3 linked regions of the Homo sapiens genome follow. The protein of the gene in region 2 purifies or fractionates together with the protein of the main gene of each other region. This does not show direct contact. Each region holds a gene or a part of one and is shown on either strand. Other genes may lie near its edges.

Evidence for each region. The genes of interacting proteins can lie anywhere in the genome.
Region 1: the proteins of PLSCR5 (region 2) and TTC1 purify together in Homo sapiens (affinity purification with mass spectrometry; one large-scale study listed by BioGRID and IntAct). This does not show direct contact.
Region 3: the proteins of PLSCR5 (region 2) and AMBRA1 purify together in Homo sapiens (affinity purification with mass spectrometry; one large-scale study listed by BioGRID and IntAct). This does not show direct contact.

The regions. Positions count from the first base shown.
Region 1 is NC_000005.10:160,015,639-160,019,138, reverse strand, and holds part of TTC1 (tetratricopeptide repeat protein 1), read right to left. Parts: exon of another isoform or gene 108-3,500; intron 1-107.
Region 2 is NC_000003.12:146,595,347-146,598,846, forward strand, and holds part of PLSCR5 (phospholipid scramblase family member 5), read right to left. Parts: intron 1-3,500.
Region 3 is NC_000011.10:46,542,024-46,545,523, forward strand, and holds part of AMBRA1 (activating molecule in BECN1-regulated autophagy protein 1), read right to left. Parts: intron 2,019-3,500; coding exon 1,952-2,018; intron 1,376-1,951; coding exon 1-1,375. UniProt on the Homo sapiens protein: Substrate-recognition component of a DCX (DDB1-CUL4-X-box) E3 ubiquitin-protein ligase complex involved in cell cycle control and autophagy.

The DNA of each region.
Region 1 (3,500 bases), on a different chromosome or scaffold from region 2:
TGCAAACCACTAGTGAAAGGGAGCAAACCCATTGAAATGACTAAATCTGCATTTTGGCTTACAAATAAAAAATGTTTGTTTGCAGGAAAGAATTAAATCACCAGAACCTGGATAAGTTCAAAGTTCCTTCATCTTCTTCATATTAATAAAGGCCACACCATCCATCCAGTAGCTGAAGACAAGGAATCATTCTAACGTCTCACTCCATCCCGCCAATCGAATCCACTGCAATGTGTGGTCTGCTTTACCTCTGAAATATATCCCAAAATCATACACTTCTCTTCAGATCCACAGTTCAAGCTACTATCATCTTCACTGGGCTACTGCATTAGAGCCTAATTGGGCTCAAATGTTCTATTCATGTCCCTCCTCCATCCTCATACCCCTCCATTCTCTGTATAAGAACTGAATTCTCTTATTAAAATGTAAATAACTTCCGTCTCTCCCTGGCTTAAAATTATCCATCTGTTTCCTTCTGCACTTGGAAAAAACTTCAAGTTCTTTACTACGGCTTAGGAACTATTCCATAATCAGACCCTTGCCTACTATCAGCCCACTCTCTTCCTTAATCATCATGCTTCAGCCATCGGCTCTTCCATTCCTTGAACATGCCAAAACACCAAACTTGTTGTTACTTTAGGGCTTTATTCAACTGCTCTCTTTGTCTGCAATGCTTCCCTCTCAGACGGTCACACATTTGGCTGCTCCCAGTGCCACCCTCCCCTAAGTCTCTGTTGAGAGGCCACCTCTCCAGAGAGGCTTTCCTGACCAGCCAATCTAAAGCAGTCCTCTCCACCTGTCTTAGTCAGGTTGCTATAACAAAATAACAGACTCAGTAATTTATAAATAATAGAAATTTATTTTGCACAGCTCTAGGGGCTGGAAATTCCAAGATCAAGGCACCAGCAGATTTCGCGTCTGGTAAGGGGCTTGTTCTTTGCTTCAATATGGTGCCTTCTTTCTGCATCCTCACTTTGTGGAAGGGGAGTAGAAGGGCCCAACAGGTTCCCTCAAGTCTTTTATTGGTATACTTTATAAGGATACTAATTCTTCTAATCACCTTCTAAAGGCTCCACCTCTTAATACTACACATTGAGGATTAAGTTCAACATGAATTTTGGAGGAAAACATTCAAACCATAGCACCATCCTTCCAACCCAACCCATCCTTCATGTTAACATTTTGTCCTAATTCTCCAATGAGAGAACAGAAACCCTGTCTTGTTCACCACTGTATCCCTCAGGGCCTCAAACAATGTCTAGTGGGTGGAAGAAATGTAAATATTACTTGAATAAATGTGAGAAAAAAATTTCTGTAACTTATAAGGCCAATTATTGGCTCTCATGGGGGAGAAAAAGATGCTATTCATTCAACAGCTATTTAATGAAGGAAGATTGTGCAAAACCTGTGACAGTGGTCCTCAAGCCTCAGCATGTGCATATGAATTACCTAGGAAATTTACACATGAGACCTAAGAAACTGCACTGTGACAAGCAGTCCATAAAAGGCGATTTTCTTATGGAATCAATACTAGCATTCTGCAGTATGTGCCATAGGTCCTAATACTATAAACACTTGCTATGGTCTGAATGTGTCCCTCCAAAATTCATGTTGAAATAATCCCCATTGTGTTGGTATTAAGAGGTGCGTCCTTTTGGGATGTGATTAAGTCATAAGGGTTCCAACCTCATGAATGGATTAGTGTCCTAATAAAAGAGGTTGAAGGGAGCTGCCCTGCCCCTGCTGCCATGTAGGGACACAAATGGTGCCATCTGTAAGGAAGAGGCCCTCACCAGACACTAAAATTGCTGGCACCTTGATCTTGGACTTCTCAGCCTCCAGAATTATGAGCAATAAATTTCTATTATTTATAAGTTATCCAGTCTAAGGTATTTTGTTATAGCAGCTCCAACACACTAAGATAGAATTTTTGTATCATAATGTTATTATTGCAATTCTCTTCTGCTGCTACATTTGTCCTTCACCTTAGCCAAGCCTCTCAGAACCAGTTATTTGCTTCACATACCTAGTACATCTCAAATGTTAGCTAAAATTCCATTCCTGTGGGTAGTTATATCTACATTTAAGCTTTCACAAATAGTTAAGATTTACTGCTGAAATAAACACACGAATACACTATACTCTCTGAGAGCTTTTCCTGTTTTTACCAAATCTTAACTGCTTTCCTCCTCAATTATTCTTGATTTATGAGTCCTGCTGAGAAGTGACACTACACTTGAGCGTGAATTATCTTCCCAGCCACAGGACAAGTGAAGTTAGCTTGATTAACAGACTTTGGCTACTATTATTTGGTTGTGTCCAACAAGAAACCTTTAATACTACATAGACCCTGTACGGAATAGCACTTCTTTCCCAAATCATCAGGGGTCAGCTTCATGTGCTTTTGTGGTAGGGCACACAGTTTGGTTGTAAAGTAATCAATTTTTATTTATTTATATTCTTAAAATGGAATAATGTAATACAGGCTTACTGAAAAAAAAAGCAAATATTACAAAATTGCATTACATATAAATTAAAATTCCCTAATAATCATACCTCTCAAAGTTACTTACTGCTTATACTTTGGTGTATATCCTTCAAATTTGTATGTATAAACATATTTTCACATAGCCTTAAAAGAAATCATCACTGTTGTATAACCTGATTAATTAATTTGACATTATATTACAGGCAGCTTCCCAGGTCAATACCTACGATTCATCTTTTTAAAAAAATTTTTTAAATTATTTATTTATTTATTGAGACAGAGTCTCATTCTGTCACCCAGGCTGGAGTGCAGTGGCGTGATCTCGGCTCTCTGCAACCTCCGCCTCCTAGGTTCAAGCAATTCTCGTGCCTCAGCCTTCTAAGTAGCTGGGACTATAGGTGTGCACCGCCATACCTGGCTAATTTTTGTATTTTTAGTAGAGATGGGGTTTCACCATGTTGGCCAGGCTGGTCTTGAATTCCTGGTCTTGAGTGGTCTGCCCACCTTGGCCTCCCAAAGTGCTGGGATTATAGGCATGAGCCACTGCACCCGGCCAAGATTTACCTTTAACAACTGCATTGTATACTACATAAATATAACAACAAAATTTAAGTAATACTCTGGGAAGAACACATTTTTCTCTCCTACTATACCCTCCCAATAGGTCTGACACCAGATGAGAGTGTTTTCCACACTAAACAATTCTCCAATGGACACCAACGGAGTGTCCTATAATTCAATTCAGTTCTGTCACTATCTCCAGGTAGACAGTGTCTGATCCCACAGGTTAAGAGTTTAGTCTCATAAGCCTGGCCCCACTTCAGACACTAATCACAAGTCCCAGGTTGTGACCTATGATTCCGACTGAATGGTTAGCACAGGGTTCTTACCACCCTCTCTGTGGGTTCAATAATTTGCTAGAATGGCTCACAGAACTCTGGGAAACACTTTACTTACACTTAGTAGTTTATTACAAAGGACATTATGAATGATATAGAACAGCCAGGTGAAG
Region 2 (3,500 bases):
GTGGCTCATGCCTATAAATCCAGTACTTCTGGAGGTCAAGGTAGGCAGATTGCTTGAGCCCAGGAGTTCGAGACCAGTCTGTGCAAAATGGCAAACCCCTGTCTTTACAAAAATTAGCTGGCTGTAGTGGCGTGCGCCTCTAGTCCCAGCTACACAGGAGAGAGGTGGAGGTGGGAGGATAGCTTGATCCTGGGAGGTCGAGGTTGTGGTGCACAGTACACTCCAGCCTAGTCCCCAGAGGGGAGACTCTGTCTCAATTAAAAAAAAAGAAAAAGAAAGAAAAAGGAGACTGAGACAGAACTAACTCTGTGTTAACTCCGCAATAATGAGAAAATTAGAGTAGATCTTGAAAACAAGAGTTTGTGAAGATTTTTAAACAATCTCTGAATTATAATGTTTAAGATGTTTTACAACTCAATTTTTTTAGAAGACATGAAACAACACAATAATGATTTGAATGCCTGGCCTCTCCTCTTAACCTCTGCCTACGTCTACTATCACTCTGTCAAACTGCAACTCATATCTTTCAGTGATGGAATATATTTGTTAAACCTGAAAGGTTATTGTATACATTTTTCTCTCATTCACACTTTCCTTTGGACTAAAAATAAAAATGAGTTCCTGTGGATGCCAACAAAATACCAATTTAAGTCAAATAAATGTTATGGCACTAAATACATTACAAGATTTGACTTATGTAATTAAAAATAAAGTTAATTTACAGAGATAAAGTATCCACAGATAATTGAGAAATGATGATTAAATTAAAAAATCTGTAATGCAAATTGCTTTTTAAAGGAAATATGAAAGTTATGTTCTTATAAAGAAATTTATTTGCGTTTATTTTATTTTTATTTTTTGAGACAGAGTTCAGCTTTGTGGCCCAGGCTGGAGTGCAGTGGCACCATCTTGGCTCACTGCAACCTCCACCTCCTAGGTTCAAGCAATTCTCGTGCCTCAGCCACCTGAGCAGTTGGGATTACAGGTGCACGCCACCATGCTCGGCTAATTTTCGTATTTTTAGTAGACACACAGGGTTTTGCCATGTTGGCCATGCTGGTCTCAAATTCCTGGCCTCAAGTGATCCACCCATCTCAGCCTCCCAAAGTGCTGGCATTACAGGTATGAGCCACTGTGCCTGGCCTATTTGTGTTTATTTTCAATCTGATATTCAGTACTTGAAGATCCAGTAATGCAAAAGCATGAACACTAAATATGCTGCTGATCATTGTATTTTCTAACGCTTCATTTTTCCTTTCACCTTAAAATTTTCTTCACCATATTCTCCCTTCGCATTAATAAACTCACCAGTAACTATTAAACTAACCAGTCATTACTAAAATTTGGTATTGATTGGACATCACAATCTCAGAACATTTGAAGCTACATGATTTCCCTCATTCTCCTTGTATGTCCTAAGGTGAAGGTAAAACTAATATCATTTTCTCTATTTAAACCTTATTATTGATAAAATAATATGTGTGGCCTCTTTTTTAAGATTCACAAAAAATATTTTTCCAAAAATAATTTATGATCTAAGATATTCTAAAACCTAAATTAACAATAATAAGAAAGCTTTTATTAGAAAAAAAATACTAGACCAAGTCTTTAGTAGTGTACTGCATTAGTTCTGTTATCTTCTGAGGAAAACGGAGTGGTAAGCCTCAACAAGGATATATGTTATTATTTAGTAGTTGATCTAAGCAAAAGTAACTTAGAAATGGAGATCTGTGTGATCAAGAATAAAGTGGGAGTTTAGGTACTTTGAATACTGTTGTCATGAATCAAGTTCTAGTATTGAAATTTAGAAACTATTAATTGAAGTCCACCTGACAATGAAAAAGTAGTACCTCTCTAATATCCAACAATAACAGTTTTTTTAATTGAATAACTACCATAAGGTAGTCACTGTGCTAGATGTTTAGACAGCATCTGATTTAATCCTCACAAAAACTCAGAGAGATAAATATCATTAATTTTAAATGTGAGGAAGCAAGCCCACAGAGATTAAGTAATTTGCCCACCATCACAGAACTTGTAAATGGACATCAATTCTGACATGCATTCTATTCTGTTTCTTTACGGACATCACTACGCTAAATTTAAGGGAAATAAGTCTTAAGTGACGACATGAAACTTGAGTACCTTTCCTATTTTCTTTACTCTTATACCCTCCCCATCCTCTGTAATAACATTTGATTTGCTCTCTCTGTGAAAAAATCTCCTGGATTTAAGGGAGTTGTTTGTTTTAGGCTGTTCTTGTAGTTTTCCTTAAATAGCACATAGCCACTTACAAACTATGGCCCAAAGGGGCATTTTCCATTCTTTTTCTATTCATTGATAGACTAGCAATTTTGGAAACTTTAAACAGATTGAATTATACGTTTAGGTGTCATGGCAAGTAAAACTTAACTCCTTAAGTATGAAAGCTGTAGAAATGAAAATACAATGAGAGGATTAGATGTATGGCTTAATAATTAATTTAAAAAAAATCAAGTTGACAGGTATCAATGATTCCATTTGATATATGTATTTCAAAATAAATTGGATATTTACATGTTTTGTAGACTTTAACTCATTACTCTTATGTATAGGTGACTATAATAATTATTCTTTGACACTATACAGTAAAATGTTATTGACTGTATGAACATGTAAATTTAATTTGGAAAGAATTTATTGATTTTACTCTTAGATTTAATGTACATTATATAGCTAAACACTCATATATGTATATTTTCAAATTGTTCATGGAAACAAGATTCTCAATAGTAATTGGATGGACTTGATTAAAAGAGAATAGATGTTAAAATATTTTATTTAAATTTTTAAATTTAGAACATATTAATTGTATATTTCCTGTTTATTCATTGATTAATGTACTATTTCCAAATGTTCATTATTTTGTTTGATTTTTGTGGCTTTTAGGGAAAAGTTGGCATCTAAAAATTCATTTTATATTGTGTCTCTTCCAGACTCATGGCATAACAGTTTGGAAGTGCTCATTCATCCTTTTATATGTGCACTGCTTTAAAGTAAAGTAAATAAATGTTCTTTTAGTATAAAGTGAGGAAATTACCTTTCCCTTTAGAAGTAGAATATTCAACAATTGGTGGCATATTTTTCTTTTCTTGGAATGATTAACAAAGGTATATTTTTGGAAAATTTATTCCATTTTAGAACCAAAGCCAATGGGCTCATATCTCTACTTATTGAACACAACAAAAATGTATTCATGTCAAGCATCTGGCTCCGGGTGTGTCATCATTCATGAATGGAAGAAGAATATGTGATGACCATATGTGATCATCAAACCTCAGCCCTCTGGCACTGGTATATCACTTTTATACTTGGCAAAACCTTGTCTGACAACATTCCCAAACAGCTTGCAGCAGTTAATCAACTCTAGTCAGCTATTACAGCTGATCCTTTCTGCAGATGGAAGATGGTAGGTTTGCGTTTCCAGCTCTTTTACATATCTCCCTGAGCTCTCCAGTCTC
Region 3 (3,500 bases), on a different chromosome or scaffold from region 2:
TGGACTGGGTGTAAATTCTTTCCCAGTGGCCTGTCTCCTGGTTAAAGGCCACCCCCACAGTCCTCTCCTCCTGCGGACTAGCAGAGCTGCTCAACTCCAGCCTGCTGGAGCTGGGCGTTTGGCCCTCAGTCCGCTCGAGAGGTGGCAACTGGCTGCCACTTGATGGCACACTCTCAAAGGAGCTGGGGACCTGCCAAGAGGAACTAGCCTCGCCAGAGGAGTAGTTAGGTGTGGTTCTTTCCCAGCGCAGGGTATCGTTGTTGAAGGTCAGGAGATTGTGGCAAGCACGACAGCGATTCAGGTGGCCACGGGACAGGTTGGAGTTGTTCTCACTGCTGTGTGGGGTGGGCTGGTGGGAAGGGCCTGGCCTCTCAGATTCAATGTTATTGTTGAGCATTTCCTGGGCCTGTTGGGTCTGGGGAGCTTCCCCACTCAGGCTCTGATCCAGCTCCTGAAGCCGGTCATACTCCAGAAAGAAGCGTCTCAGGTCACACTGAAGCTCATGGCGAATGCTGCCCGAGTTGTTTTGGCTGGAGCCATTCCCTCCATCTGACTCAGTTGCCAACCCTGATGCCGGAAAACCCCTCCCTTCTGTGGCTGAAGTGTACACAGATGCCTGAGAGCCACCTTCCTGCTGTCTCAGCACAGACAGCAAACTCACCGAAGAGGCACTGGTTCTGGGCGGGGGCATGGATTCCGCCTCAGAGCGGGAGTTCAGACTGAGTACTGTCCGGGTCCACTCAGATCCTGTCAACCCAGGAGCTATTTCTCGGTGATACCTAGAAGGGTGGCTAGACAGAGGCCCTCCCAAAGAGCGGCGGGTAGGACCCAGACTGAGGTTGCGGAGCGTGTTGCCGGCAGTGCTGCTCTGGACTGTACTGAAGGCAGACGGCCGGTTCAGGAGGCCCTGGTCCTGCTGCGTTGACGAGGCCTGCTCCGGGGGATGGAAGGGCTCGGTCTGTACAAAAGAAAAGGAAGGGGTAGTAGCTCTGGCAGAAGCAGGGGGGACACTGTCCTGGTGTGGCAAGAGGGAAGGAACTCGAGTGCCAGAGCAGCGGCTGCAAAGGCACAGGATCCCAAGGTGCTGGCAGCACTCAGCTGTGGGGTAACTGACCCGCTGTCGGAGCCTGATGTAAGCGGAAGTCCTGGGGCGCTCCGTGGAGGGCTGAGGGGGAGGCGGTGGGGGTGAGGGGGTAGCAGAATCTTGCACTGTGCTTTGCTCTCCCACCTGGATGCCAGAAGAGCGGGAGGACAGCATGTGCAGGAAATTGTGGAGGAGAGGCGTCCGGCGAACTGGCTGTGATTGCAGGAGGGCACGCTGACGGTAGTGGGATAATTCTGTTCCATCTATGGGGATCTCTGGTTCGTCATCACCCTGCAACGTGGACCAGCATGGGGCAGGGGGTAGAGCAAGGCAGTTAGGTAGAACCTCCAAGTAAATCAAGAAAAACTAACCACTGACAATCATCCAAGGAAAACAATGTTCATAGGTAGGAAACAACTCTCTACCCCTGAAGCACTGACAACTGGCCTCAGATTCAAAATAATCACATGGTATTAAATTTTCCACTCCCAATTAGCAGCATATCTGAATGAGTGCAGCTGACAAACCAATTGTCTTACAAAAGACATCTCCCCATGACATGGAAGCAGTGAGGGGAAGCAAAATGTCAACCAGCCAGAGGCACATGAGTGACAAGCTATCCAACACTGTCTAGTGATGATAAGGGTTACTTCTAATGAGGCAATCACTGGAGGGTTTCAGAATCGACTCTCCTGTCAAGATTATGGCTATAACCCTGAATATACAGTCTGAAGCTAGCTTTAAATCTTGACTGGAAAGATAAGACTTGGGTATTGAGAATTAAAATCCAATATAATCAGAATTGGAATACTAGTTAAGAAAAGAACTCACAGTTTAGCTGGAATTGGAACTGCTGGACTAACTTACCTGTTGATTAGAGGGGTTAACAATTGCTGTGAGTAAGTAGTGTCCAAGTGGATCAAATCTCACCAGACTAAAATCACAGAAGAAAGAGACAAAGACACACATAGAGAGATTATGTTAACTGAGAAGAGGAAACTTGTGTTTGAATTTATAGCAATCATTACTGATAACTGGTATCACTCAGGTATCCACTTCATTCAAGACTTCCAAAACTTTCAAAGAGATTAAAATAGTAACACTCAATACTTCTTGCCAGAGTAAAGGAATATGTATCACAAAAATAACGATTTCACATGAAAAACACCTAGAGTTGCCATCCCAGGAAACAGCTACCTTAAGCACACCTTTGCTCAAATACAAGAGTTCATCCTAACCGTAAAGCATAAAATGCTCTCATACTCTGCCACAGAATCAGTTCTTCCCTCATATGGCAGCTACACCGGCAAGAAGCATGAATCTTGGTGGCAATGAACAGTCCCAGCATTAAGTGACATAGCTGAAACCAGAAAATTGGCCTGTATTCGACTGGAAATCCAAGAGGACCAAAGAAACACAATGCATCAACTTTAATACAGACAATATGTTTTGATCTTGAGGACTAAATAAATGTCAATTATGTGCTTACATCTCCATCTTCCAGTTTGATAAACACAGACAACCCACCAAGGTATCTAAAATACCACCCAAACTTCTTTCAGGTTTTCCCAAAGAAGTACTATCCAAAACAGTTAGCTTTGAAACTAAAAGAGAGTCTAATGACCCTGATCTCCAAAAACCAGAAGATGAGGCCAATAAGGGAAAGCTGAAATGAACAAAATGAATGTCTCCCAGCTGATTAGTCAGCTGCTTAGAAAGCAGGAGGCGGCCAGGTGCAGTGGCTCATACCTATAATCCCAATACTTTGGGAGGCTAAAGCAGGAGGATCACTGAAGGCCAGTAGTTCGAGACTAGCCTGGGTAACACAGTGAGGCCCCGCCCCCCAAATCTCTACGAAAAAATTTAAAAATTAGCTGAGAGAGGCTGCACACACCTGTAGTCCCAGATACTCATAAGACTGAGGTGGGAGGATTGCTTGGGCCCATGAGGTCAAGGCTGCAGTAACTTGGGCCCATGAGGTCATGACTGCACAACTGTACTCCAGCCTGGGTAACAGAGCAAGACCCTGTCTCCTTAAAAAAAAAAAAAAAGCCGGGGGGGGGGGGGTGGTGGTGGGCATGGTGGCTCATGCCTGTAATCACAGCACTTTGGGAGGCTGAGGTGGGCGGATCACTTAAGGCCAGGAGTTCAAGACCATCCTGGACAACATGGTGAAACCCTATCTTTATTAAAAATACAAAAAAATGAGCCGGGCATGGTGGTGGGTGCCTGCAATCCCAGCTACTCTGGAGGCTGAGGCACGAGAATCGCTTGAACCTAGGAGGCAGAGGTCGCAGTGAGACAAGACTGCGCCACTGCACTCCACCCTGGGTGACAGAGTGACACCCTGTCTCAAAAAAAAAATAGGAGGAGCTATGAGGATGACAACTTGCCCTGAGCAGGGATAACAACCTGA